Linked DNA regions of Homo sapiens: region 2 is linked to region 1. The links come from fine-mapping of genetic effects on gene expression. A gene starts in region 1. The other region holds a variant in brackets. All regions are shown on one strand. Distances are from middle to middle. Region 1 holds the start of KCNH8 (potassium voltage-gated channel subfamily H member 8). Region 2 has its middle 43 kb from the start of KCNH8.

Region 1 (15,405 bases):
TTTCACTGGAAGCGATGTTAAAGGTAATCTTTGGGTCATGAGTTCAACTGATGAGGAAAGTTAGCGAGTATGAGATAGTCATTTGAAATAAGGGTAACAGCATGTTAAAGAGATGTCCTGAAAGAAGATATCATGTTCTGGGAATTGTACATAATTGAGCAAGTGTCAAACATAAAATCATGGAGGAGTTAGCTTGCTATGTGCATAAAAGATGACGCTGGAGGGCTACGTCGAGGACAGTTATTGAATGGCTTCAACTAATAGGTGATATAATTTTGCTCTGTCCTCAAAGATACAAAGATTTTAAGGAAGGAGTACATGATTAATTTATATTATAGAAAAACACCATGCTGGCTGCAGTATAAAGGAGGAATTCAAGAAGAATGCTTTCTGGCAGGAAGACCAGCTAAGAGAAATAGTTATAGTAAGAAATAATGAGTATATCAGTTAAAAGAGTGACAGTGGAAAATGGAAAAAGGACAGATTCTACAGATTTTATGAAGCTAGAGGTAATAGAAACTAGTGATAGATTATTTATTTTAATGTAAAGAGAGGATAATCAAGACTGGTTCCCAGATTGTATTTTGGGCTAGTGGTGAATCATGGATGAAAAATAGGGAGCAAAGGAAAAGAATGTGCTGGAGTGAAGGCAACAAAGATACATGTGAGATGTTTTTTGTTTATTTTCTATTCAAGATTCATTGTTAGCTGTAGAATTTAGTAAATGGGCTCATGGTTCTTTCTTCTCAGAAAACCTCCCTGATATGCCAGGGTCAATCTGGATCCTCCGTCAAGCAGACACCAAGATAGGAGTTGACACTGAAGAAAGAGCATGTAAAGGATAAAGGTAGGTGGGGGGGCAGGAAGAGTTTTCAGACTGTGATGCAGGGTTGACATCTCGGAAGGAGAGGGAAGGAACAGTGGGTAGGAAGAATGGTGCACTACTGAGAAAGTCTTTGTCAAGCTAATGAGGAATCCTGGCACAGAGATTACCTATTAGGCGAGCCCCACACAGGATAGAAAGGGCTGAACTTTACTATTGGCATCACGTTTGGTCATCGGCTGACATGGACAGTGTGGCAGATTTGAAGATTTGGCAGCTGAAGACTGTCATCAGCAACACTTTTCCCACCAGGTTCTCTTGACATGAGATCCAAACAGTGCACCTCTATTGCTACTAAATGTCAGTTCTTGAATATTCCAGAGTTCCTTTTCTTTGAGGGCAAGGGTTGGATTGTATTTTACCACCTCTTTAAAATTAGGATGGCCATATGACTTATTTTGGTCATTAAGTTGTAAGTGGAAGTTTGAAAAAACAGTATATGCTTTGCCGGATTATCTTTTTCTCTTCAAAGAAAATACCTTTTGAGCAGAACTTCCATCAATCTGGGCCCCAATAATGAGCAGGCTCTTACCAACTCAGGTGGGACATGTAGACTGAGCAAGAAATAGCATTATTGTAATAAGCCATTGAGATATTATGTTTTTTATTGAGGCATAACCTAGATTACTCTGACTGAAACCATAGCTTTGGAGATTGTGCTGGAGTATTTTAGTTTCTACATACACTGAGAAATAGGCAGTGACCATTGGGGAACAGGAGGCAGTGAACACTGGGGAAGAGGAGGCAGTGAACATACCACTGGAATCCAGCTTGGTTGGATATAAGAGCACAACAATTTGAAAGCGTTAGTCAAAGAAATGAACTGCTTGATTTTCCTTCTGAGCTTCTAAAGTCATTTATATTTAGAAGGAAAAGCTCACCAGTCATAGGTTGTAACAAATTATTAATACATAAATGTGTTCTGAGCTAACAGGACCATAAACTGTCATAGTTGGTCAACAATATTTATTGTGGATAAACAACTTGTATTAGATATGTTAGAACATAAAAAAGAGAACAATGATTATTATCATCCCTTTTATTGTATGCCACATATTATGAGATTCAAAGGCTTTCATAAATATTTTCTTCTACTCAGTGGAGTAAGTAGGGAAAGTATTATTATCCCAGTTTTACAGTTAAGGAAATGGAAACCCACAAACTTTAAATGACAAAGGGGATAAGTGGTTGAAACAAAACTAGAACTCAATACATCTGAGTAGATGCCTGTAAATTAAAATATTGCCTTCTTGCGAAGGCTAAAATTCTTGTTGCCAGAAAAAGTTTAAGAATATTTTCAGTGCCTACAGTCAAATACATATGCATCAATAAGGCATTTGCAGCTATTTTGTGTCATGGTATTGGATGAATGCTATAATTAGAAAACAGACGTGAAGCCGACCTAAAACCATCAAACTAATATAGAGAGCCCTGAAGCTTTTTCCAGTTCCAGTCAGTCTGAAAAGACAACATCAAATGCTAATGAGAGTCAGTCTTAAATAAAATAAGAATAAAAATTGCTTTATCTGTGGCTTATAACTCTTAAGTGAATTTAATGTGTATTTTCTCTCTTGTGTGTTACATTTTCCCTATAAGGAATTATAGAGTTGAACCCAGATCTTGTACCCATAAATCTCAAATGCTTATGGAGACATAAAGAATAGGTAAAAATGGATTTTTAATCACATTAAGGAATGCTGTTATGAGGCAACTTCCTTTGAAACTCAAAATACTAACAAATTGATAGGAAGATTTTAAAACATGGCTCCATTTTATTTGATACTTGTTCCATCTAAAGGTTGGACTTTTCCCCCTTTCTGATTAACCTGGATTCTGTGCTTGCTTTCAATCTGGCCGTTTCTAGATCAGGCCTTAAGAAACTGGCAGTTCCTACTTCCTGTCTCTTCAGACACTCTGGAAACCACCATGCTGTGAGGAAGCCCAAGTAGTTCCTGGAGAGATCTACACCAATAACTGAAGCCCCAAGGCCCTAGCACTGGCTGAGCTCCCAGCTGAAAGCCAGCACCAAATTTCCATAACTTTGAGTGAACCATCTTGGAAGTGTATATTCCAGTTCCAGGTTAAGTGTACTCAGAAATAACCTGCCCCATTGATCCCTGTAAAAATTGGAGATCTGAAAGCAAAATACAATATTGTTGACATTTTAAGTCAGTAGGGTTTGGGGCAGTTTATTGTATCAGTGAACTTTGCCTAGGTTGGTTTTACCTAGAGGCCTTCTATAGTACATAATAGAGTACCTTGGTCTGGTTATAGGGATTTTGTGCCTTCCTTTACATTTTAAAGTGAAAGAAAAATATCTTTTCTGTGAACATGAATTTTTTATTATTATTGTTATACTTTTAAGTTCTAGGGTACATGTGCACAATGTGCAGGTTTGTTACATTGGTATACATGTGCCATGTTTGTTTGCTGCATCCATCAACTCGTCATTTACATTAGGTATTTCTCCTAATGCTATCCCTCCCCCAGCTCCCCAGCCCCCAACAGGCCCGGGTGTGTGATGTTCCCCTCCCTGTGTCCATGTGTTGTCATGAACATCAATATTTTTAATGAGGGCATTAAGTTTACTCTATTGTGTGGTTATCCTGTATTCTTGTAGCATTGTCTCGTTTAGTCCGTAGAGAAAGATCACATCCCTGTAGTGTGTGATCTACTATAAAATGAGTTGGGGTTTTTTGTGTCAATAAAATGAGTTGCAACAAAATGAGTTGGGTTTTTTTGTGTCAATAAGTGGGGACAGTGGGAAAATTTCCTTAAGGAAAGCACATGAGATTTGGTGATTTGGGGCAGATGATAGTGAAAACTCCAGACTCCCATGGTGCTTCTTTCACGGTCTTTGCTTTCCAGGTGGCAAAACATGTTTAAAGGGATTTAATATACTTAAACTTGGATGGAGGTCATGTTCTAATGGCACAATTTGGCCTCACTGATGCCACAAACCCTTAGGATGAACATTAGGTTTCGGGCTAGAACTTAAAAAGGGCCTGGAACTCAAGACCAGAGTGGTGATGGCTGTCTTCATTAAGAAACACTTCTTGGTGGGCAAAGGATATAAGAGATAGTTAGGTCCATCTACTGCAGTTCAGTAGAATACAGGGCTTGAATTTGAATTTAGGGCAGGGATCTTGCCATGCCTAGCACAGTTCCTGACACATAATAGGTGTTGGAGGGGAGACAGTGAATGATAAATGCCAGGCTCCTTTTGCCATGAAACTGGGGCTTTCTTTTGGGTTGTCATTTTTAAGCCACTATGTGGCTTGCTTCTTGCAGTGATTTCATATATTAGGTAACAGATCAGGACCACGAGGAAACAATTTTTACACACACGGCCCTACAGTGCAAATTGTTATGAACCACAGTCATAGCTTACAACTAATACATTTCATCCTGAACTTCGAGCCAATTCACGGGTGGCGTTTATCTCCGTTTTACATCGGCAGCAACAGCCTGAATTTTCTGGGACACGATGCGCCACCCAAACAACAGGGACTCCCTCATCTTTTTCTCCCCAGCTCCGCCCAAGACTGAGCCACATAGCCACCTGCAGTTGCGATCGGCTCGCCGCGTGGGGGACTCCACCCGCGTGAGCTCGGTTTCCGAAAAGCGAAGCTGGGGTGGGACACAAGGATTGAGGGGAGGACAGGGACGGACCTGCGGCAGAAGCAGGGTGCAGCTGGGCGAGGAACCCCACGTTGGTAGCTTCTCTTCTGGGATGGCCGCCCCGCGCCGCCCACTCCGGAATCCTGTCCCCTCCCCGGCGCGCCCCCGCCCAGCTAGCCTAGAGCCTCTGCCGGATCTTCTCGAATTTCAACACAAAGGGAATCCTCGGCCGCAGGAAGTGCATCACGAGAAAGGGGGCCTGGGGGCGGGGAGAGGGGGATGCCGCTTCTCTCTCTTCTCCCCCTCCCTCCCGGAGCCCAAGGCAGACGTGACGAAACCCGCGGGGTCCCCCCCGAAGCCCCAACAGCCGAGATAATTGAAACAAGAAACCCCCTTAGTAAGGGGGCGGGGGGTGGGCCCTCCCTCCCTCCTCCCGCCACGCCCGAGTTCCTGGAGATCAGAGCTGCCTCGCCGCGGCTCTGACACCTGTTTGCTTTTTCCCTCCTTTCCTTCCGGGTGCACTAGCACCTGGGCTTACGTTTGTTTTTCTACCCTGGGGCTCTCAACTTCCCTTCCACACTCCACCTCCCTTGCAGAGTTTTCTATAAAGTTCGGGCTCTGGGTGTCCCCTTGCACTCCCCACAGGGCTGTGCCGCAGGCTTGGGCGACTTTCCCCGCAGAACGTTGGCCGAGAGGGAGTCCCCGCGGGGGGGGCCAGGGGGGAGGACTGGGAGAGACCACTTTCGTTTTCTGAGACGCCTTCAGTTCCTGGCCGTCCGCCAGGCTTTCTTCTTGGAGGTGTCAGTCTTCGGGAGTGGGGGCTGGGGAAAGGGGGGCAGGCTAGGGGATTTGTGTTTGAAGCTATTTTTGGAAGGCAGCCTTACTGTTTTTACTTACGTGGTATTTTGCAAATTAATAAAAATAGCAAACTTTTCTAGAAATGCTTTATTCACATTTTACCGGAGAATGGGAAACCATCCATTGTCCGTTCAAAAGGCTATTTTTTTAAAGTTTGGGATGGCTTGGGGAGGCCAATGGCAATTTGGGGAGAAGGGCTGAAGCACCCCTTTTTGGAGCTCGGGGCCAGTTTCCCGGACTAAAAGACCCTGGTGACTGGGGATGGGCCTCACAACTAACTCGGGCTGCCCTGCCCCTGTCGCGTGGGCTCGCAATGGCAAGTGCTCCGGAAGGGGGCCGCCTCCCCGTGGGGCTCCTGGCTGCCTCTGCTCCCTTGGACACCACTGGGGGGCCTCCCCCTCCTAAGTTCTAGGTTGAGGCCGGATACCTGCCCCGACCTGTCTCCTCCCTTTCTCCAATACCACACCCACGGGACTCCAGTCTCCCCGGGAGTGGGACGGAGAGGGAACAAAGGGGTCTTTGTTCACTGGCTCCCGGGGCGTGGGAGTTGCGCTCGCTCTCCTTTCCCGGCGTCCCGTGGAGACCGGGAGGCTCAGCGCCTCTCCCAGCTCTCAGCGCCGCCCTCCCAGACCCCAGAGACGTCGGTCAGGGCGCGGCGCCCCGGGCCACTGCGGGCTCTTTCCGGGCGGGCGACGTGGGGGGCGAGGCACCGCGCGGCGGCGCCTGGCGGGCACTGTTGCCCGCGGAGGGACGGTGGGGGGGTTTCAGCAGCTGGCGGGGGTGGAGGGGGCGGGAGAGGGAGCCTGCGCCGGGCTGAGCCTGGAGGTGCGGGGCGGGCTCGGGGAGCGCTCTTGGGGCTCCTCCTGCCACAGCCGGGGCGGCTGGAACTCTCTCCCTTTCTCCCTCCATCCTTCCACTTCCCCTGCTCGGCCCCGCCGTCAGGCCGGGTCCCCCTTCCCTGCCGTCATCAGGTTCCCCTTCTCCCTTCTTGGCACTTTCCTTTCGAACCATCCTTCTGGACAAACTTTGATGGAGAATTTCACACCACGCTGGAAAAATGCCGGTTATGAAAGGATTACTGGCGCCGCAAAACACCTTCCTGGACACCATCGCCACCCGTTTTGACGGAACACGTAAGTCTTACACTTGAACGAGTGGTATGGCATTTTCTGAGACTGATTTTTCTCGTACACATTACTTTTGCTCCCACCTTCCCTTTTGCACCAGCGGAGTGAATTTTCTTCTGTTCTTGCCAAGGTATCTTTTGTGCGGAGAAATTTGTTCCCTCATGGTTTGGTGTAGTATTAACACTTTGTATTGGTGTAATAGTTGGCTCTCTTGAGTTCTTGGGTTTGTTAAGGACTGAAACGCAGCCTGAGGAAAGACCGACGCCCGTATTCACTGTGGGACCTGCATTTTGGTGTATCTTTAGGGAATTGGTTGTAATTTTCTGAGGTGAAAAGGGGAATATCGGTGTACCTAATCTTTCTAGAGTTTCAAGGCTCCCTAGATCAAAAGGAGAGCTTGGAGTGTTCTTTCTTGGAGCTTCATTCCGTGATATATTTCGGATAGGTATGATTTTCTATCTGAGTTTAAGAAATGCAGGATTGCCAAGTGTAAGCTTTCTGTAGAATTTTAAGTGTTGTGAGTTTGTCAGAACCTTGATTCCTGCTTTTGAGCTAGAATAGCGTATCTTTTAATCCTTAAATGAGCCTAACACTCAAGCAGAGGCTGTTCAGGAAGAAGGACATGAATAAAGACGATTTGATGATAAGAGAAAGTTTTTAGTTTTTTTTTTTTGAGTACGAATATTATTGGACATTTAGCTCATTTAAGCTACAGTAGGAAAAAAAATAGATAGGATGTTGTGTGGTTGCTAGCAGACGGTTCGTTATCATCTGCAAGTTGTTCTCTTTCAGGACCACGGTCAGGTCCCCACTCCTTCTCAGGCTTTTCAAGCTCTCTACTTGACCCTGTGGATCTTCCTAGCTGGCTTTAACCCTGTAATTAGGAGTCTGTACTACCACCCCTAACAAATGCTCTCAGTTGGTTTCACTACGAATATCCTCATCTTCTTTCTAGCTTATCTTGCTTCTGTGCACTGTCTTCCATTTTTCTGTTGAGACTCAGAGAAACTCATTTATCCTAAAGTCCTTCTTAGTGGTTCAAGTGTCATTGCTTTTACTCTGTATATTTCTTGGAGCTGATATGGGAGAGCAATACTAATTTCATTTCCACTCCAGTAGTCTAAATACACAGTCTTATCTTTGGGTGGGAAGCAAGTCTTGGACTTATGCTTCAGGGATAGTTGGAAAAGTTTACATGAGAAAGAAATGAATCACTTTAATTTTGTTCAGTTTTTATTTTTGACATCTAGTCTAATCATGGTAGTTGGTGTGGATATTTGGTCACTTCATAAGTGTTTTTATCTTTACATCTAGCCATTCTTTTCCCTTTTATATTCTAAATGTGTTAGATGTTATGTATGAGGTGTAATGTTATTACGTATGTCTTTTTTAGATAATAATGATAAATATTATAGGAAAACTTCAAGTCCCTGCCATTGCCACTACCACACCACTGAAGCGCCACACAAAATCACCACTGCTGTGTTTTACCATGCATGATGGCGGATACTACTATTTTACTATTCATTACCTGAGGTACTGATCAGTTTAATGTGGATGTTTTTTTTTTTGAAGTTGAACATCCAAAACTAAAAGGCTGTAAACATTGATCCTGAATTTGTCTATTGAAAATGAGGTAATTGGCAAATGGTAATTGTTTATCTCATTGCCATTTAAAGTTGAATGAAGTGTAATGTGTAGTGAATCATCCCAGCACAGCCTTGGGAATTACTGCAGTGATACATTCAGATATCAATTGCTAATGAGAGGGGCTTTAAATCATCAGCGTGGAAATATCTTGGCCTCTGACTCTGACTATAGTGATATGCATGATAAGCAGGAGGGCATGTAGGGAGAGATGGATGTACTTGTGAATAGTTCTTTTTCTATGTTGGCTACACATTAATGTTAATAAGATAGGTTAGATACTTTAAATCCTTATTTTTAAAGAAGACCATCCTGACATACCTGTATTTAGTATAGTAAGAAATCAAAAAGTCTTTTGGAGACCATGCTTGGTCTGTGCTCCACAGCATCTGGGGGATTCCTGGAGGGAACCAGTTTGCATGAAATCTGACAATCAGAGAAGCAAATTTGAAGGTGATAAGTAACATAAGGGTTGACTTTGGCAAGGTTTTGTTTACAACATTTAGTGAACACCTCTCCTCCCAAGAAACCCCCACTCAATGAAAGAGGGTTTTCTTTTCTCATTTTCTTTTCCTTTCTTTTTTTTTTCTTTTTGAATAGCAGGATGACTTGAATAATCTGAAACTTAAAATACCTTAAACAAAATTTTAGCCACAAATTTTGGTATATCTAGAATAATGGGTATACCATTTTTCCAGCTAGCTATTTACTTTATCTTCTTATGCCATTGTTTCTTGTTGATACAGTTTTGTAATTACTATCTCTGAAACTATTTTCCTATGATAATCCTTACTTCTATTGATTTTTATAGCTGTCATTTATTTTCTTTTGCAAGAGAAAACTATTTACAAATTTTAAATTTACAAAATTGCCACCTACTCAAAAACTTTGCTGGAAAGTGAATAATGTTAATTATACTGAATATGTAATATGCTGAGTTGGTATAATTTTTACCTTATTTGTGAAGTATATTTTACGGTCATGCTAGTTTCTTATTTTATTTTGGACAATTTTTATGAAAAAAAAATTAGAGAGCAAACAACAACCCTGGCAAACTGCCTTGCTAATGTACCCAACATGCAGTATTATTATTAGCCTTATTAATTTATTTTATTGGAGAATAATAAAACAATGTAAGACATCATCTGAAAATCCTCCCAGGAAAAATAAATATATGACAACATAAAACTCTATAACATAATCCTACTATTTATCAGTTGAGATATTATCACAGGGCAACATAATGGAAGTTAATAATACATTTTATAACTTAGTGACACTTTATTATTTTACATATTATAATATTTCTTTTTAATATTTAAAAAGTGAGGTCTGTCAGGATTGAAAGACACTTGTGGATTATTAATTGAGGCTATTTTTTTCTGATATGCAATATAATTTGCAACCATTATTGAAAAATAAAAATATTATATAAAATTACCACTAAATATATTTACTCTTGAAATATGTTTTATGGTTTGTATTTAACTGAAGTGTAGTAAGACTTAGAAAAACTAAGAACCTTAGAAATCTTAAATACGTATACCCCACTTAGGGGGAAAAAGAAAAAGTAATTCCAATTAATTTCTTTGAATTATTACACATAGCAAAAACCACTCACTTGTACCACTCTAAGACATACACATACACACATACACCACACACACACTCCTAACGTTATGGCCTGCAACTAGTTCACTTCTCCATAGTTTTTTTTTAAAACATATTTGCTGTAATTTAAGAAAATCTTTTCTGTTTAGACTTTTGCTTTAAGTAACTATTAATTTGGACAAAGGGAAAGTACAATAAGGGAACACATTGGTATATATTTGAAAAAATATATACCAATGTATTTATATTTGAAAAAATAGTATTTTTAGTACAATTGTTTGTCACAGGATACCATTTGAGAAAAACAGCTTTTTAAAAAAGATACAAAGCTTTCAGAGGGAAGTATCCATTTTCAAACATAATGGTGGATTAGCCTACATTTTCTAGGCATATCAAAATTTGGCCAGACTACTTCTTCCCTTTTGGTTTACTAAGACAAAAATTTAAGTTTTAAAGGAAGTTTGTAGCCCAGTGGACTCCATCAAGAAGATTCCAATCAAAGTATTCAAAATAATGGTTGTTTAGAAACTCATTAATATTTGCATATATTTTATGCACTTCTATATAGCCTGTTTGAAATGGTCCAAAGAAATTTGTTAAAATTGATGCTGGGCGCAGTGGCTCACGCCTGTAATCCCAGCACTTTGGGAGGCTGAGGCGGGCAGATCACTTGAGGCCAGCAGTTCGAGACCAGCCTGGCTGACATGGTGAAACCCCATTTCTACTAAAAATACAAAAATTAGCCGGGTGTGGCGGCATGCACCTGTAATCCCAGCTACTTGGGAGGCTGAGGCAGGAGAATCCCTTGAGCCCAGGAGGCAGAGGCTGCAGTGAGCTGAGATCATGCCCCTGCACTCCAGCCTGGGTGACAGAGTGAGACTCTGTCTTAAAAAGAAAAAAAAAAGAAAAAAGAAAAGAAATTTGTTAAAATTGAAATACTTCCTCTACAGAGGAAATTCTCAGTGGTTTTTTCTTTTTATCTTTTTGCTTTCATCAAGGTACATAGACCTCTTAATGTTAGAAGCATAGGGAGAAGGATAATGTACCCATTATCATACTCTTGACTTTGTAGATGAATTCTGTGCCCTCTAAAGGACTTATCACAGGGGTTCTGATAACTTCACTACAATGAAGAAAGTGTTAGAATTACAGGAATTGGATTTATGTCTTTACCAGAAATGATTTTCTTTTGATTAGTGATATATACAAATAATAAGAAAAGTTGTATTGCACAGTCTTAAAAGCTAACATCAGATAATTTTGACATTATTATATAGAGAAAATGGACATGCAATATGCTGAAAATTGAAATTGTGTCCACGATATAGTCTTTCTAGGCTCTAACATTTTTCATTACTGTCAGTTCAAAGGTCGTGGCATGAGACCTCTTCTGGCCAATGAGACTGGCAAAGGACAAAAAGTCTTTACAGAAGCATATTGAGGATCCTGAGTTACTAGTTTCTGAGATATCCTAGACTCAACATACTTCTGGAAGAGGCACAGTCTTTCTAAAGAAATGTGTACTTTATTCATTCACTCAATCATTTTTCTTTTTCTTTTTCTTTTCTTTTCTTTTCTTTCTTTTTTCTTTTTTTTTTTTTTTTTAGACGAGTCTCACTCTGTCGCACAGGCTGGAGTGCAGTGGTGCGATCTTGGCTCACTGAAACCTCCGCCTCCCGGGTTCAAGCAATTCTCTGCCTCAGCCTCCCAAGTGGCTGGGATTACAGATGCCTGCCACTACGCCTGGCTAATTTTTTTGCATTTTTAGTAGAGACGGGGTTTCACCATCTTGGCCAGGCTGGTCTTGAACTCATGACCTCGTGATCCACCCACCGCGCCCTCCCAAAGTGCTGGGATTACAGGCGTGAGCCACTGCACCTGGCCCAATCATTTTTCTAATAATATTCAATGAATACCAACTTTACACAAAGCCATCATGCTAGGATATTTGGAATAAATCAGGATTATCTTTTTCTCAAATGGGGCAATGTAACATGCACAAATTACTATAATATAGATTAGAAAAAGATAAGTGTAATTCAGAAGGTGCAGACAAAGGGCTATGCACATTTGGGTGAGGGAGGAATAGTTTCTATGCAGGAATGATCTGAGAGGGCTTCATATAATAAATAACTTTGGGTGGGAATGATTGTATCATATATGATAGGTGCAAAAACAATATTCTATTTAATTTGCCATTTTGTACAGTACTTGTCATTGAGGCTGGAAAGAGCCTTTAGTGAGAATAAGAGGCATTTTAAAGGGTGTTAAGGGGTCAATGTAGAAGTAAGAGGGCAATGGAAAGTAGGTTAGACCAGCCATAAAAGATCTTTAAACCCACAGTTTTTGGTTATAATAAGCCATTGGAAGTGATAGATCCATATTTTGGTAAAAAACTATGGTGCCATCTATGTCTAGTTAAAAAACTTCCAAAATGCTCAACCTTCCCATGTTCTACAGTCTAAAGCACACTACAGTAGATGCCAACTTTAGACTTGGGATGTTTCTTTTTACTATCTCTTCTAATAATGCTTTTTAAAATAAAGGTTCCATAGAATGCAGTGAAGTTGATGTGTTCATTTTCTTAGGAATGTTTCTTTCTCCCAGGGAGTTAACTTTCTCTTAAGGAAGTGATAGATTTATTTCTCACCACACAGCTGACTACTCTTCTCCTCCAGGGCGGTTTACCCCTGTATTATTCTAGAGTTATGTCCTTGGTCAAGAAAAAGAATTGAGGGTTTGCTGGAATTCAGTGCCAGTGAACTTGATTGGAGAAATCCCAACAGTAAAAGGTAAAGAGTTGGAACTGCTGCAAAGATAGTATGCTTCGCCCTGGCAGTATATATTTGCTGATCTCATCTAAATGCTGTGTTTAAAATCCAAAATACAAACATCAAAGATGAGACTTCAACTTCACCTATGACCTAGTTCATATTTGGCAACTGGAGCAATTGAAGAGCTTTCTCAGTAATTTAAACAGGCAAATATAGTTATTGGATTATAAATTCCCTGGAAGATATGTTTTGCTTTCCTTTATAGTTGTTAATACAACCATCTTTGTCACATAAACTCTTCAAATGCCACATGTCCCCAAATGAACTAATAATCTTTTCTAGCCTTTGAAACCTATTTGTTTTCTTACATGTTCCAGCCTCATTATTGGCATCACGACCCATCCAGTTCTTCAAGCTGCAAATCTGAGTTGGCCTTGACTGCCTACACATCTAATTAATTATCAAATTTTTAATATTTTACTGCAGAAATGCCCTAATTTGGTACCTCAATTCCCTCTTTATTGCTTCTGTTTTAATTCTGATCATCTTTTTCTTATCTCTACAATTGCAGCCTTTCTCTAACTAGACCCCTGTGACCATCAGTCCCTTCTACTCCCACTTGTTCAGTTTCCATTGTTCCCAGAGTGATTTCCATTAAAAACAATATTACCACTTAATCATGTAACACTCCTGCTTAGAGCCATCCGTTGGCTCCCTGCTGCCTTTTGGATAATGTCCAATGTCCTTGGCATCATCTGACCCCAAGATGATTCTGCAGAATCTTTTCCAACCACTGTCTCCCAGGCTACACACATACTCATTCTAAATTCCCTGCTCTTTCATGGTTTTGGGACTCTGCTTTTCACTTGAAGAGCAAGATGCTTTTTGTTCAAGATCCATCCTAAAGATTACATTCTATCAAACTCCTTCTCTGAGGCTCCGAGTAAAGTTACATGACATTTCCCCTATACTTCCACATGGCCTTGCCCATTCCTCTAATCAGCTTTTATATGTGCTATAATTATATGCTTTCATATTTTAACACTCGACCATGAACTCCTTGAAGCCTTAACTATGTCATTACTCCCATTGCTTAGACTTATAGTTGAAATGGTCTTTGCTCAGTAAATATTTCTTTGAGTAAAAGAATTTCAACTTCTTTGAAGGCCAGGGCTGAGTATTAATTATATTTATCTCCCTTTAGTGGTACCTGGTGTTCCTTTTATTCACTATTGCATGATTACCTTTAGTTTTGAGAGAGAATACTGGACTGCCTTCCAGCCTCTTATTTTCACGTGGTTCAAGCACAAATTTCTTTTACAAACTCTAGTGATAATAGTGTCTATCATCTTGGGCATGTCTACATGCATGCTGTGTACTGTGCTGGTGCTTTTTCTGTTCCTATCACAACCCAATAACCCAGCAAGGTGGAAGGCAGCACCCACTTTTTGAGTCAAAGATGACAAAATTCAAGCCCAGAATTCTACTATATCATATTAGCCTGTGATTTTTCTACTATATCATACTGCCTCTAAAATGTGCTTGTATAGCAAGTGTAAACAGACTAGGGTGGTTTGTGGTATCGTTTCTAGTTTCTAGCTCTTGCAAATGAGATATTTCTTTAAAGATTTTAGCCATTTCTAGTTTATATGCTGTTTGTTCCCCTTTGGATATATTATGCTTTAAATACTTGTCATTTAAGTGATGTTTTAAAATAGGTATTAAAGATTCATAACTGGAACTACTAAATGCATTCACTGTGCAAAGCAGTTTAGCTCATCAAAGAAAATCTAGTGTCCATTTTTTTTAAAAAGGAAATCCATTTTCTTTGAGATTTTTCTGTTTAGAATTTGCTGACTGTAGTACTCTCTAGTGATTTCCTTTTGTTGTGAGGTTAATCTGTCTGTGAAGATATTCTAATTCTCATAGCTATTATAGTGATATCATTTTGGATATTTACCTTGTTAGGGTCATATAGAGGAAATTCTTCCATGTATTTTGAGTCTGCTTTTATTGGGAGGAATATATTTTCCAGTGTCAGGTACTGTTGACATCTTTTAACAGAAATAGTTTACCTTTTCTCCACAATGAACTTGCAGGAAGAAGTAAGGGTAGTTAGCCCTCCAACTCTCAAGTCTATAAAGCTTTTTTTTTTTTTTTTAAAAAAAAGGTTTTCTTTTGTTCTATTAAGTATTTTGGACAGACATCTTTATTGTATTTGTCAGTCCAAATGAATCTTTTATTCCAGTTATTGAACTAAAGGGAACAGAGACCAGAGCACTTACCAGTCTTACCATGTTTTATTTGATTTTCTGGAAAAAAGGATCCACATAAGAAGTTCAGATTTTATTGAAATGCCAAATATCCAGTTTGACAAGAAGTAGATGGCTCTTACCTGTGGTGTTCTGGCTATTCCTTCAATGGAGAGAATAAAGTAGAAGGTAAAATTGGGCAAGGTTTTTACCTTAACATCTGGATAAATGTTTTGCTGTGATTTGATGAGTTATGGAAAAGAATGAGGGTATTGGGCCTGGGGCAATGAGAAGGAGCTTTTGTGTTGTATTAATTTGGTACAGTTTTGGTTAGGCTACATCTCAGTCATCTGAAAATGAGCCTGTCCTTCTCTCTCAACAAATGTGTAATTTTAGGTTTTAGGATACATCATTAATAAAAATTTAGGCCTCTTGTTTAGCTGTACAGTACTCATATTATATATTGTATTATTGCTTCTGGCAAGTCAAAAGTTATAAAATTATTTGGTAGATATTAATAATGGCTAATATTTGTATAGCATTTCAGCATTCTTTATGTCATCACTTGAATTGTTTTCAAATTAATGGATGAAAAGTGGTTTCTTGTGATTGTTAATGTCCATTTGTTTACT
Region 2 (15,405 bases), 45 kb before region 1:
ATTCCATGGTGTATATGTGCCACATTTTCTTCATCCAGTCTATCATTGTTGGACATTTGGGTTGGTTCCAAGTCTTTGCTATTGTGAATAATGCCGCAATAAACATACGTGTGCATGTGTCTTTATAGCAGCATGATTTATAGTCCTTTGGGAATATACCCAGTAATGGGATGGCTGTGTCAAATGGTATTTCTAGTTCTAGATCCCTGAGGAATCGCCACACTGACTTCCACAATGGTTGAACTAGTTTACAGTCCCACCAACAGTGTAAAAGTGTTCCTATTTCTCCACATCCTCTCCAGCACCTGTTGTTTCCTGACTTTTTAATGATTGCCATTCTAACTGGTGTGAGATGGTATCTCATTGTGGTTTTGATTTGCATTTCTCTGACGGCCAGTGATGATGAGCATTTTTTCATGTGTTTTTTGGCTGCATAAATGTCTTCTTTTGAGAAGTGTCTCTTCATGTCCTTCGCCCACTTTTTGATGGGGTTGTTTGTTTTTTTCTTGTAAATTTGTTTGAGTTCATTGTAGATTCTGGATATTAGCCCTTTGTCAGATGAGTAGGTTGCAAAAATTTTCTCCCATTTTGTAGGTTGCCTGTTCACTCTGATGGTAGTTTCTTTTGCTGTGCAGAAGCTCTTTAGTTTAATTAGATCCCATTTGTCAATTTTGGCTTTTGTTGCCATCGCTTTTGGTGTTTTAGACATGAAGTCCTTGCCCATGCCTATGTCCTCAATGGTAATGCCTAGGTTTTCTTCTAGGGTTTTTATGGTTTTAGGTCTAACGTTTAAGTCTTTAATCCATCTTGAATTGATTTTTGTATAAGGTGTAAGGAAGGGATCCAGTTTCAGCTTTCTCCATATGGCTAGCCAGTTTTCCCAGCACCATTTATTAAATAGGGAATCCTTTCCCCATTGCTTGTCTTTCTCAGGTTTGTCAAAGATCAGATAGTTGTAGATATGCGGCGTTATTTCTGAGGGCTCTGTTCCATTCCATTGATCTATATCTCTGTTTCGGTACCAGTACCATGCTGTTTTGGTTACTGTAGCCTTGTAGTATAGTTTGAAGTCAGATAGTGTGATGCCTCCAGGTTTGTTCTTTTGGCTGAGGATTGACTTGGCGATGCGGGCTCTTTTTTGGTTCCATATGAACTTTAAAGTAGTTTTTTCCAATTCTGTGAAGAAAGTCATTGGTAGCTTGATGGGGATGGCATTGAATCTGTAAATTACCTTGGGCAGTATGGCCATTTTCACGATATTGATTCTTCCTACCCATGAGCATGGAATGTTCTTCCATTTGTTTGTATCCTCTTTTATTTCCTTGAGCAGTGCTTTGTAGTTCTCCTTGAAGAGGTCCTTCACATTCCTTGTAAGTTGGATTCCTAGGTATTTTATTCTCTTTGAAGAAATTGTGAATGGGAGTTCACTCAAGATTTGGCTCTCTGTTTGTCTGTTATTGGTGTATAAGAATGCTTGTGATTTTTGTACATTGATTTTGTATCCTGAGACTTTGCTGAAGTTGCTTATCAGCTTAAGGAGATTTTGGGCTGAGACAATGGGGTTTTCTAGATATACAATCATGTCATGTAAAAACAGGGACAATTTGACTTCCTCTTTTCCTAATTGAATACCCTGTATTTCCTTCTCCTGCCTAATTGCCCTGGCCTGAACTTCCAACACTATGTTGAATAGGAGTGGTGAGAGAGGGCATCCCTGTCTTGTGCCAGTTTTCAAAGGGAATGCTTCCAGTTTTTGCCCATTCAGTATGATATTGGCTGTGGGTTTGTCATAGATAGCTCTTATTATTTTGAAATACGTCCCATCAATACCTAATTTATTGAGAGTTTTTAGCATGAAGGGTTGTTGAATTTTGTCAAAGGCTTTTTCTGCATCTATTGAGATAATCATGTGGTTTTTGTCTTTGGTTCTGTTTATATGCTGGATTACATTTATTGATTTGCGTATATTGAACCAGCCTTGCATCCCAGGGATGAAGCCCACTTGATCATGGTGGATAAGCTTTTTGATGTGCTGCTGGATTCGTTTTGCCAGTATTTTATTGAGGATTTTTGCATCAACGTTCATCAAGGATATTGGTCTAAAAATCTCTTTTTTGGTTGTGTCTCTGCCCGGCTTTGGTATCAGAATGATGCTGGCCTCATAAAATGAGTTAGGGAGGATTCCCTCTTTTTCTATTGATTGGAATAGTTTCAGAAGGAATGGTACCAGTTCCTCCTTTTACCTCTGATAGAATTCGGCTGTGAATCCATCTGGTCCTGGACTCTTTTTGGTTGGTAAACTATTGATTATTGCCACAATTTCAGATCCTGTTATTGGTCTATTCAGAGATTCAACTTCTTCCTGGTTTAGTGTTGGGAGAGTGTATGTGTCGAGGAATTTATCCATTTTTTCTAGATTTTCCAGTTTATTTGCGTAGAGGTGTTTGTAGTATTCCCTGATGGTAGTTTGTATTTCTGTGGGATCGGTGGTGATATCCCCTTTATCATTTTTTATTACGTCTATTTGATTCTTCTCTCTTTTTTTCTTTATTAGTCTTGCTAGCGGTCTATCAATTTTGTTGATCCTTTCAAAAAACCAGCTCCTGTATTCATTTTTTTGAAGGGTTTTTTGTGTCTCTATTTCCTTCAGTTCTGCTCTGATTTTAGTTATTTCTTGCCTTCTGCTAGCTTTTGAATGTGTTTGCTCTTGCTTTTCTAGTTCTTTTAATTGTGTTGTTAGGGTGTCAATTTTGGATCTTTCCTGCTTTCTCTTGTGGGCATTTAGTGCTATAAATTTCCCTCTACAAACTGCTTTGAATGTGTCCCAGAGATTTTGGTATGTTGTGTCTTTGTTCTCGTTGGTTTCAAAGAACATCTTTATTTCTGCCTTCATTTCGTTATGTATCCAGTAGTCATTCAGGAGCAGGTTGTTCAGTTTCCATGTAGTTGAGCGGTTTTGAGTGAGATTCCTAATCCTGAGTTCTAGTTTGATTGCACTATGGTCTGAGAGATAGTTTGTTATAATCTCTGTTCTTTTACATTTGCTGAGGAGAGCTTTACTTCCAAGTATGTGGTCAATTTTGGAATAGGTGTGGTGTGGTGCTGAAAAAAATGTATATTCTGTTGATTTGGGGTGGAGAGTTCTGTAGATGTCTATTAGGTCCGCTTGGTGCAGAGCTGAGTTCAATTCCTGGGTATCCTTGTTGACTTTCTGTCTCGTTGATCTGTCTAATGTTGACAGTGGGGTGTTAAAGTCTCCCATTATTAATGTGTGGGAGTCTAAGTCTCTTTGTAGGTCACTCAGGACTTGCTTTATGAATCTGGGTGCTCCTGTATTGGGTGCATATATATTTAGGATAGTTAGCTCTTCTTGTTGAATTGATCCCTTTACCATTATGTAATGGCCTTCTTTGTCTCTTTTGATCTTTGTTGTTTTAAAGTCTGTTTTATCAGAGACTAGGATTGCAACCCCTGCCTTTTTTTGTTTTCCATTTGCTTGGTAGATCTTCCTCCATCCTTTTATTTTGAGCCTATGTGTGTCTCTGCACGTGAGATGGGTTTCCTGAATACAGCACACTGATGGGTCTTGACTCTTTATCCAATTTGCCAATCTGTGTCTTTTAATTGAAGCATTTAGTCCATTTACATTTAAAGTTAATATTGTTATGTGTGAACTTGATCCTGTCATTATGATGTTAGCTGGTGATTTTGCTCGTTAGTTGATGCAGTTTCTTCCTAGTCTCGATGGTCTTTACATTTTGGCATGATTTTGCAGCGGCTGGTACCAGTTGTTCCTTTCCATGTTTAGCGCTTCCTTCAGGAGCTCTTCTAGGGCAGGCCTGGTGGTGACAAAATCTCTCAGCATTTGCTTGTCTGTAAAGTATTTTATTTCTCCTTCACTTATGAAGCTTAGTTTGGCTGGATATGAAATTCTGGGTTGAAAATTCTTTTCTTTAAGAATGTTGAGTATTGGCCCCCACTCTCTTCTGGCTTGTAGGGTTTCTGCCGAGAGATCCACTGTTAGTCTGATGGGCTTCCCTTTGAGGGTAACCTGACCTTTCTCTCTGGCTGCCCTTAACATTGTTTCCTTCATTTCAACTTTGGTGAATCTGACAATTATGTGTCTTGGAGTTGCTCTTCTCGAGGAGTATCTTTGTGGTGTTCTCTGTATTTCCTGAATCTGAACATTGGCCTGCCTTGCTAGATTGGGGAAGTTCTCCTGGATAATATCCTGCAGAGTGTTTTCCAACTTGGTTCCATTCTCCCCATCACTTTCAGGTACACCAATCAGATGTAGATTTGGTCTTTTCACATAGTCCCATATTTCTTGGAGGCTTTGCTCATTTCTTTTTATTCATTTTTCTCTAAACTTCCCTTCTCTCTTCATTTCATTCATTTCATCTTCCATTGCTGATACCCTTTCTTCCAGTTGATCGCATTGGCTCCTGAGGCTTCTGCATTCTTCACGTAGTTCTCGAGCCTTGGTTTTCAGCTCCATCACCTCCTTTAAGCATTTCTCTGTATTGGTTATTCTAGTTATACATTCTTCTAAATTTTTTTCAAAGTTTTCAATTTCTTTGCCTTTGGTTTGAATGTCCTCCCATAGCTCAGAGTAATTTGATCGTCTGAAGCCTTCTTCTCTCAGCTCGTCGAAGTCATTCTCCATCCAGCTTTCTTCCGTTGCTGGTGAGGAACTGCGTTCCTTTGGAGGAGGAGAGGCGCTCTGCTTTTTAGAGTTTCCAGTTTTTCTGTTCTGTTTTTTCCCCATCTTTGTGGTTTTATCTACTTTTGGTCGTTGCTGATGGTGATGTACAGATGGGTTTTTGGTGTGGATGTCCTTTCTGTTTGTTAGTTTTCCTTCTAACAGACAGGACCCTCAGCTGCAGGTCTGTTGGAATACCCTGCCGTCTGAGGTGTCAGTGTGCCTCTGCTGGGGGGTGCCTCCCAGTTAGGCTGCTCGGGGGTCAGGGGTCAGGGACCCACTTGAGGAGGCAGTCTGCCGGTTCTCAGATCTCCAGCTGTGTGCTGGGAGAACCACTGCTCTCTTCAAAGCTGTCAGACAGGGACATTTAAGTCTGCAGAGGTTACTGCTTTTTGTCTGTGCCCTGCCCCCAGAGGTGGAGCCTACAGAGGCAGGCAGGCGTCCTTGAACTGTGGTGGGCTCCACCCAGTTCGAGCTTCCTGGCTGCTTTGTTTACCTAATCAAGCCTGGGCAATGGCGGGCGCCCCTCCCCCAGCCTCGCTGCCGCCTTGCAGTTTGATCTCAGACTGCTGTGCTAGCAATCAGCGAGACTCCGTGGGCGTAGGACCCTCCGAGCCAGGTGCGGGGTATAATCTCGTGGTGTGCCGTTTTTAAGCCGGTCCTAAAAGCGCAATATTCGGGTGGGAGTGACCCGATTTTCCAGGTACGTCCGTCACCCCTTTCTTTGACTCGGAAAGGGAACTCCCTGATCCCTTGCGCTTCCCAAGTGAGGCAAAGCCTCGCCCTGCTTCAGCTGGCGCACCGTGTGCACACCCACTGACCTGCGCCCACTGTCTGGCACTCCCTAGTGAGATGAACCTGGTACCTCAGATGGAAATGCAGAAATCACCCGTCTTCTGCGTCGCTCACGCTGGGAGCTGTAGACCAGAGCTGTTCCTATTTGGCCATCTTGGCTCCTGCCCCCTCTGTTTGTCTATTATTGGTGTATAGGAATGCTTGTGCTTTTTGCACATTGATTTTGTATCCTGAGATTTTGCTGAAGTTGCTTATCTGCTTAAGGAGATTTTGGACTCAGATGATGGGGTTTTCTAAATATACAATCACATCCTCTGCAGAGAGATAATTTGACTTTCTCTCTTCCTATCGAATACCCTTTATTTCTTTCTTTTGCTTGATTGCCCCAGCCAGAACTTCCAATATTATGTTGAATAGGAGTGGCGAGAGAGGGCATCCTTGTCTTGTGACGGTTTTCAAAGGGTATGCTTCCAGTTTTTGCCCATTCAGTATGATATTGACTTGCACTTCCTGGGTGAGGCAACACCCCACCCTGATTCTGCTCATCCTCTGTGGGCTGCACCCACTGTCTAACCAGTCCCCATGAGATGACTTGGGTACCTCAGCTAGAAATGTGGAAATCACCCACCTCCTGCATTGGTCTCACTGGGAGCTGCAGCTGGAGCTGTTCCTATTTTGGCCATCTTGTCCAGGAGTCTAGGTCCCATTCTTTCTTGTCTGCCACCATGTAATATGTGTCTTTCACCTTCTGCCATGACTGTGAGGACTCCCAGCCATGTGGAACTGTAGGTCCACTAAACTTTGTTTTTTTAATAAATTACCCCGTCTCAGGTATGCCTTTATCAGCAGCATGAAAATGGACTAATACATTCTTTCTTTTGTGGAAACAGCAAAAATTATGCCTGAGGAGGGAAATTCAGGACTGTAATTATAAATACAGCAATAATGTTGTTAAAACTTTATATATCACTCTATATAAGTTGGACAAACTTCTCAAAGTTTTAAATAGATTTACTTATTTGTTTTCAAATTAACCCTATGAGATAGAAATTATTATCCTCATTTTACAACTGAGGAGATTGTTTTTTCTGAAAATTATCCATGCTCTTTTAGTCCAAAGATTTCTTCTACAACAATGAAGAAGGCTCCCATGACTGATGGGCAGGGACCTAAGCCTGTAAACATGGTTCTCCAAGAATCTTAATCAGTTTATTGGAGGACACTTGATTGCCTGTTGTCTGGCTCCTTTTGTGTTTTCTGTAGCCCTTGCCTTAATTAATGTGACAATAATATGCACCTGAATTTAATTCTTTTTTTTCTGTTCCATTGTCCTTCATTCCTGAGCACCCACTTCATTCCTGTATTTCAGAATATTAATAAACTATAAAACAAATTTCCAGATATGTAACAAAAGCAACAGTTCAGACCTGTAGTGAAAAAAAAATGCTAATTTCAATAAATAGTGCTGAGTCAATTGTTTATCCATATGGAGAAAAAATAGTAGATTGATTCATACCTCACACTGTACACAAAAGTTAATTCTAGATGGATTACATATTTAAATATGAAAATAAAACATACAACTTTAAGAGAAAGTATAGAATAACATATTTATGTCTTTGGAATACCCCTGAATTTCTTGAGCAGGATACAAAAAGCTCAATTCATAAAAGAAAAAAATGATAAATCAGATTATATTTAAGAATTTCCTAAATCAAAAGGTGCCATTCTGAAATCAAGAAGCAAGATATTGAGTTAAATAAGACATTTGGAATACATGTATCCCACAAATCATTTCTATCTTGAACTTATTAATACTTCCTATAAATCAGTAAGAAAAACACAGATGAACCAACAGAAAAATGTACAAAAGATTAGAAGAGATACTTTACAAAAGAAGATAACAAAATATCCCACATATATTTGAAAAAATGATCCATAGCATCAATCATAAGTGAAATTCCAATAAAACCATGATTAGATACTGTATATACTCACTTGAATTGCCAAAATGAAAAAGACATTATCAAGTTTTGGTCAGGGTATGAAATGATTAGAACCCTCATACCAGTTTGTAGAAGTGTAAATTAGTATAACCACTTCAGTAATTGTCTCGCAGTATTCATTAATCTTATACTTTATGACCCAGTATTTCCACACTTACTCACACGCCAATAGATGTACACACAAGCTTAACAAAAGATATGTACTAGATTGTTTATAGCAGCAATATTTTTAATATCCTAAGACACAAAACTACAAAATGGTCATCAAAAATTAGATAAATAAGTCATACTCACACAATATAATACTGTATATCATTGAGAATAAACAATTGACAAATAAACACAACCATATGGATGTGTCTCAGAAACATAATATTAAAAGAAAGAAACCCAGAAAAATAGTGTATGTACTGTATGATTCCATAATAAAGTGAACCTATGTGCAAACTATTCTACTTGGTAGAAATCAGGGTAATGATTGCTTGGACATTGGGAGATGGTATCATGAGTGGAAAGGGGGCTTTCTGGAGTGTTGGTACAAAAATGAAATTAGTTTGTGAAAAACCATCAATCTGTATAATTTTGAAATGTTCACTTTTATGTATACATATTAAACTTTGAGTTAAAAAAAAATTCCAGCCCATGATGATCTTATTTCAAAGGTGGGGACTTGCTAACCTGAGACAGAAAAGTAGGATGCTGGAGAGTGAGGTACCAGTTGTGGGATCCTGAGGGAAGTGGAGCAATGTGTCAAGCAGATTTACTGTGAAGCAAATGAAACTTCAACTTCAGGGCCTCAATCCCAGGAGTTCCTTCTAAGGCCCTCGGCA[A/G]GGGGTTGCGCAATATGTTGTGTTAAATTTTTCCAAACCGTCAGCTTTTCACTTCCATTTACGTTACTACCTCTTCATTATAGTAAAAATGTGTGTGCCTGAGAAACACCTTTATACCTTCTCTTAAGTTATTCACCCAGTCCTGGACCCCTTGAGTCACTGACTGACTTGGTAATTGTTTGGGGCAAAGTGTTATGGGATCTTTGAGGTGTTGCTTTTCTGGACAGAAACCTCTGTGGCCAGTGATGCCTTTGCCCAAGTTTTGCTTGGGCCTGCTGGGCTCATTCTGCTCACTCAGCCTGGCAGGCTGCACTTGGCTCACACTACCAGCCTGCCAAGGGCAAGTCAGGCATGGAGCAGCAAGAGGTGTGTGACCAAGCATGAGGTCTGGCCACTGCACACAATTGGACATTCTGGCTGCTGCCACAGAATGGGTAGCTCCAGGTGATGGCATAGACACTGGCTCTCTGCAAGACTGAGGCTGGAGCAGGCACACTGCAAGCAGCTTCCCTGGCTGGCACTGGGGAATTCAGTGGCACCGAGAAGCTTGGAGATGCCAGGAACCACAAGTCTCCAAAGAGGGAGTCACAGCACCAGCTCAGGGAGCTTCCAGGTTTGGGATTCCTGAAGGACTGCAACTCTCCTTCTCTTTGTCTGCAACATGGCAAGCAAGGGGCATGTTTCAGCCCTGTTTGTGTTACAGCTCTTTCAGCCTCACCGTTCAGCAAGTCCAAAATTCTTGTCCTGTGACCAGGAAGAATGAGGTACACAGACAAGTGGAGGATGAGCAAGATGAAGAGGAGCTTTATTGAGCAATAGAACAACCCAGAGAAGATCCACAGGCAGTAGCTCCTTTCTGCAGCCAGAGTGTCCTGATGAGTGTTCTGTTCCTAGCAGAGAGAGTAGCTCCTTTCTGCAGGCAGGTCATCCCAACAACTGTTCAGCTATCAGCAGAAAGGGTAGCTTCTCTCTGCAGCTGGTTTTCCTGTCATCTGCAGTTCTCAGGAGAGAGACCGTGGAGTGAGTAGCTCCTGTCTCTGCAGCTGGTCATCCCAACATCTGCAGCTCTCAGCATAGGAGGCCCTGGAGTGGGTAACTCCTCTCTGCAGCTGGTCATCCCAACATCTGCATCACTCAGCAGAGAGGAGGCCCTGGAGTGGGTAGCTCCTCTCTACAGGTGGTCATCCTGATGTCTGCTCAGTTCTGGCTGAGCCCAGGACTTTTATGGGCCTCAGAATGGAGGAATTACACACCAATTCGTCCATGGGTGGCCATGGGTGGGCCGGAAAAGGCAGCACAAGTTCCCACTCCAGTTTGTGGAACTGGAAGCCCAGCCCCCAACCTTCAGGCCTTCCCTGGCCTGAAGGTGGGGCCACACCAGGGACTGCCCCCTTCTGCCCAGGAACCTGTGTCCGGCTGCCATTCATGGCACCAAGGCTGTAGGTGCCAAGAGGTGCCTGCAGGCCCGTGCCAAGCTGCCCTCAGTGCCACCTCAGCTTCCCTCCTATGCTTATTGGTGCCCAAAGTCCAGAGGGGGTTGAGGCAGCAGAGGGCTGGTATGTCAGTGCTACTCTGAGTGTGTGCACACCTGGTGGGCTGTGACAGTGCCCAGCTTGGCCCCAATTTTGCTCCAAGATCAGAGCATATGCTGAGAGCAGGGAGAAGACAGGCAGTGGGAGTATGCATTTCTGAGCCTGTGAGGGCAGTGGGGGCCTTCCTAGGTCCTCAAGAGTGCAGAGATGCCTGGGTCTGCAGCCATGGGTTGGGCAACTGCACCCACGCCTAGGGGGCAGGACTTCTGCCTGCTCCTTGGAGCAGGAGGCCTGGCTCTGCAGCAGTTACTTGGGCAGCAGAGTTGTGCCGGGGAGCTCCCACCCCACTGACTCAGAAGAAGCAGGGCTTTCACTAGTCCCTGGCTCCTGCCAGCTCCCTGAGTGTTGGAGTGTGCAACCCTGGCCACGCCTCCCTGCTGCAGCTGGCATGATGGCAGCAGCTGCTCCAGATGGGCCACTGCTGCCATCAATAGGATCCATGTATTTCAGTCTTCCTTGTGGTGCACATGATGCACACACCTTTGAAAAGGTCTCCATAAAGGGAATTGTTAGTTTGCAGGAGTCAAGACTCTTTTCCCCTTATGGTTTAGTTCCTTATTTCCTCTAAAAAGGCCACCACAGCTGGGTGCAGTGGCTCACACCTGTAATCTCAGCACTTTGGGAGGCCAAGGTGGGTGGATCACCTGAGGTCGGGAGTTCAAGACCAGCCTGGCCAACATGGCGAAACCCTGTCTCTACTAAAAATACAAAAAAAAAAAAAAAAAAAAAATTAGCCGGGCATGGTGTCAGGCACCTGTAATCCCAGCTACTCAGGAGGCTGAGGCAGGAGAATCGCTTCAGCCCAGGAGGCAGAGGCTGAGGTGAGCTGAGATTGTGCCACTGCACTCCAGCCTGAGCGACAGAGCAAGACTCCATCTGAAAACACACACACTCACACACACAGTTTTATGAACATGTCAGACTATATGGTAGGCTTAGAAAAAGCTAAAGCAAATTAACTGACATAGAAAGAACTTAAAGCTATGAGCTACATGTTGTATTTCCCATAGTCAATGGGAAAAGCACCCCCAAATTAAAATCCTTTGCAGAGAGTATGTTTGTACATGTGACTTATTTCCCAGTCTTGTTATCTTTGTTCTGGATTTACTTTCTTTTAAGAAAGTAATGTCATCTAACCTCAGGTATGAAAATTTGATCTACCTTTTGGGAAACTCATCTCTTACCCACACAGGTTTTTAGAGTTACCCTAGTCTTCATCCCCGTACCCCTACAGTTCATTTTCTCGTTCTGAGTTACATCTAGAATACTTTCCTGGAGATGCGTGAAGAACAGTTCAGGTTGACTTTGGTATTCAAGATCCCCCGGCAAAATTCAGGTTGGGCATAGCCCCGTCAAATTCTGTCATTTTAAAGGTGGCCCTGCAACTTAAAAAAAAAGTTGCACTTATGCTTCTTTCATTTTTTCAGGTTTTCAGTGGATAACTGATCATAACACTTGCACACACACTGAAAGCATATATCTCCCTAGAACAAAGCTTAACACCCAAATTTTCATAATCAATAAAGTTTATACTCAAAACAAAAATTATTTTCTAACTGTTCCATCATCCAAAAAGCCATTCCAGTCCACCAAAGAGTTTGTATTCACACAGTGGAATAGCACAATTTTTTTTTCTCCATTTCATCTCCTTCCTACTACAGCTTTCAAACTGTCATCTGCCAGGCCTATTGAAGACTAAGAAACTACCAGGTACTAAGTGAGTTGTTGTTCCACTAGATCTATAAGAACCAAGATGAAATCTCCAAAGGATTCCTCCTAAGGGTCTGCTTAACTTTAGACACAATGCCACACATTCTTTCCTTGGTCAGTTTTCCCGAGAATTTGTATTATAGATTGGTGATGATGGGAAAAGGAGTCATTGTCATAGAATTGATACATATTTGATGTTCCCTTAGCCTGGAAAAGTGGATCTCAAAATAAGACACTCGGACTAGCAGAATTAGCATGACCTGGGGAACTCATGGGAACCTATGACAGATCTACTCAATCAGAAACTCTAGGGCGAGACCCAGTGATTTGGGTTAAAATTTGACAACCTCTGGTCTAGGACATCCTCTTCACTTCTTTTCAACTTTCTGCCTGGCAAAAACGGACCCAGATTTCACAGCTCTTTGTGAAGTCTTCTCCAAACCCACAGCCTTTTTCACTAAGCAGAAAAGAATTGCTCTACATCACTCTGTACCCTCTGCTTTTAGAACATTTTGGACATATGTACAACTCTCCATTACAGCACATATCACATTTTCCAAAATGGCAGTCTTTCACTCACTTCCTGCCACATCTGTATCAAGTGACTTGTATCTTATGATGCCAGTTGCAATAACAAAGTGTAATGGAGGAGTCTTATTTTGCTGACAACTTTGACCCCATAAGTGATGGCTATTAAAATGAACCACTGGACAGAGTATGAACAGCATAGTCTTGGAATTTTCATACAAGCCTCTTCCTCCATTCTCACAGCCTCAGGAGCAACAAGAACTAATAAAGTAGTTATTAAGAAAAGAAAGAACTTGATAAGCCAGAGAAGATTAAAAAGCAGATCAGTGGTCAGTATGAAGGCTGAGAAGTTGCCTTCTTGCTGAGTTTAGACTACTTTGCCACTTTTTAATTAAGCAGTCTTTTTGCTCTTGCCAATCAGAAGGCTTCAGACATCAGTGTTTCTCATATATTGGGTTACATATCTTCACCCCTTAAAGGAATCATGTGGTTAGATGGTTATAAACCAGATGTTTGAGGTGTCTGAGATATACCTGCAAACAGATTTACTTTGTCCTGGTGGAAATGGCTCCTTGATTATAGGTTAGATACTTTGGGGTACTGCAGAATTCCCTTCCATCTGAGTATAATTAGAACATCAGTGCTCTAGTGAACTAAACACAATTTTAAAAAGTAAATGCTGAGAATGCAAATTCTTGGAAAATCCTCTTCACTTTCCATTCTCTGTGCTGGTAAACTTTAGTTGGATATTTGGAGCCATATCAGAGATCTGAGCAGATCAACAAAGTAATTCCTATTTTTGTGTTGTATTGGGATCGGCTCCATAAAATGCTTTACATATGCTCAGTCTTTTGTGTGGTAGCCAAGCAGACAGATTTTTCTTGCAAACAGTGTTTTTGAAAATTTGAGCAAATGCTTTTTCTGGCTTTTTTCCTGTTATTTTCAAGAAAATGTGATGCCTTCTATGATTGAAGCCTGTTACTTTGAAGTTTAATGACAATGGAAGAGAGCAAGAAGTCCTCATTGATAATGGACCAGGAAGGAAAGGAACTATATGTATCCCTAAAATATTTATCATTTGTCACATAATTTAGTTTTGATATTATATGCTCCAAACAATAGAAATATTTGTAATTGCCTCTGTTCATTTTTTTCTATATACAGTTTTATTGTTTTGTAATTAGATAATAAAAAGACATATTCCCATTATGCTATTTTAAAATTAATAATAAAAATAATATATGCATATTTTGGATAGTTAGAAAATACAAACATATAATAAAAATCCACAGTCACACATACTACTGTTATTAAGAGAAAATTTATTATTAATATTTTTGTGAAGAGCTTCCCTGTTATTTTATCTATGTGTGTTTAATTTGTTTTTCAAACTTGGGAGCATGATGTACTATGATGTTTTAGTGATACTTTAGTTAATATATCTTGAGCATTTATTTATATCATTATCTTTTAAAATTTTATATAGCAACCTTATTGTTTTCCTGGTTATAAAAGTTTCTTTTATGCTAAAATTAAGTAACCTTAAAGTCATCCAAAAATGATTTAATTAAAAAATTCTCGGATAAATAAGAAGCTCTACCTCAGCACTATCCCAGAGAAAATGCGAAGCAGGTATGTAATTTAAGATTTTCTAATAGCTACATTTTAAAAAGTCAGAAGAAATTTGAAATTAATTTTAATAATATATTCTATTTATCCCAATATATTCCTGTATTGCCATTTTAAGATGTAATCATTACAAAATATTATTAATGAGAGATTTCACATTCTTTTTTTATTTTAAATCTTTGAAATCTAGTGTGCATTGCACACACACAGCACATCTGAATTCTGACTAGCAACATGTCCAGTGATCAATAGCCATATGTGACTAGTGGCTGCCATGTTGGACGGTGTAGCTCTATATTGTCTCACATTTTTTACTTGTCATCAAACAAAGAAAATATTAAAACTAGCACATACAGGTGTATGATTTCCTTTACATGGACCTTCTTTTATAATTTTTTTCATATCACATTATCTCATAAGATTCAAAGAGAAGTTTCACATAAAATTTTCCAGTGATCTAAAGGTGAATAATTCTTAAAGACTCCAGCCCTTAAAGACTCCTGCCACTGCCACTCTCATCTCCACCCCCAGCAGTCCAGAGTTGTAGGACTTGGGTACTGAACTGCCTGCTTCAGCCACTTTGTGCCCTTGTTATAAAGCAATTCCTGGATCTCCATGCCTCATGATTTCTTTGAGGTCATGTTTCTAGACTCTAATTTTTATCATTACATTCATTTATCTCCTTATTACATTGGGCAATTCTACAGACTGTTGTCTTGGGCAGCAGTGTTCAAACTGGGGTCTGGGGATCACTGAGTTTCCAACTTTTTAAAGATAAAGTGCTATGGAGGACATGGAATGGAAATTCGAGATCAAGGAAGAAAAAAGAAATATGTAAAGATTTCCAACTGTTAAAGAAAACTTTTTATGTATGCTTTAAGGACAATAGTGGGGATCAAATAGCTTTTATAGTTGTATTGGATTTGTTACATACAAAAGACTTCGAAATTTATTATTTTAGAAATCACATTCTTTGTAATTATTTAAATATATATATAATTTATTTATATATAAAGTTAAAATGTGCAATGTGACAGTTTTTAAAAAAAACCAGACAGTATGCAAACAAAAGCTTTGAATACCTCTTAAAATTAGCCCAGTTCACTTACATCTGGTCCTGAAAAGAACCCCTCTGGCAAGATTCTTAAACTTTCTGCGTTTCTATAATATGGAATAATAATGTTATTTACCTCACAGTGTTGTAAGGTTAAAATGAGATAACTTATGTAAAAGCCTTTTGTAAATTATGATATATTGGAGAGATGTTTGTTATTCATAATTTCTTTTCTTCCATGAATTCCTTACTTTTTTTTTTTTTTTTTTTTTTTTAATAGAGTCTCTCTCTGTTGCCCAGGCCGGAATGCAATGGCACAATCTCGGCTCACTGCAACCTCTGCCTCCAGGGCTCAAGTGATTCTCCAGCCTCAGACTCCTTAGTAGCTGGGATCACAGGTACGCGCCACTGTGCCCAGCTAATTTTTGTATTTTTAGTAGAGACAGGGTTTCACCATGTTGCTCAGGCTGGTCTTGAACTGCTGACCTCAGGTGATCCACCTGCTTCAGCCTCCCAAAGTGCTGGGATTACAGGCGTGAGCCACCGTGCCTGGCCCCAT

Evidence for each region. PIP is the estimated chance that this variant, and not a neighbour inherited with it, causes the effect.
Region 2: its variant is the best candidate, but not a certain one, in a credible set for the expression of KCNH8 in testis (GTEx, PIP 0.85).

What each region holds. Positions count from the first base shown.
Region 1 is chr3:19,142,301-19,157,705 of GRCh38, forward strand. It overlaps KCNH8 (potassium voltage-gated channel subfamily H member 8), which reads left to right and starts at 6,210. Exons shown (of 16, transcript NM_144633.3): 1 at 6,210-6,495. The coding sequence starts at 6,420. RefSeq lists enhancers at 4,465-5,058, 5,059-5,652 and a silencer at 4,600-4,771.
Region 2 is chr3:19,097,683-19,113,087 of GRCh38, forward strand. No RefSeq gene overlaps it. Among named protein-coding and RNA genes, the nearest start is that of KCNH8, 43 kb to the right of the region's middle. The variant A/G (reference allele first, on the strand shown) is at 8,334.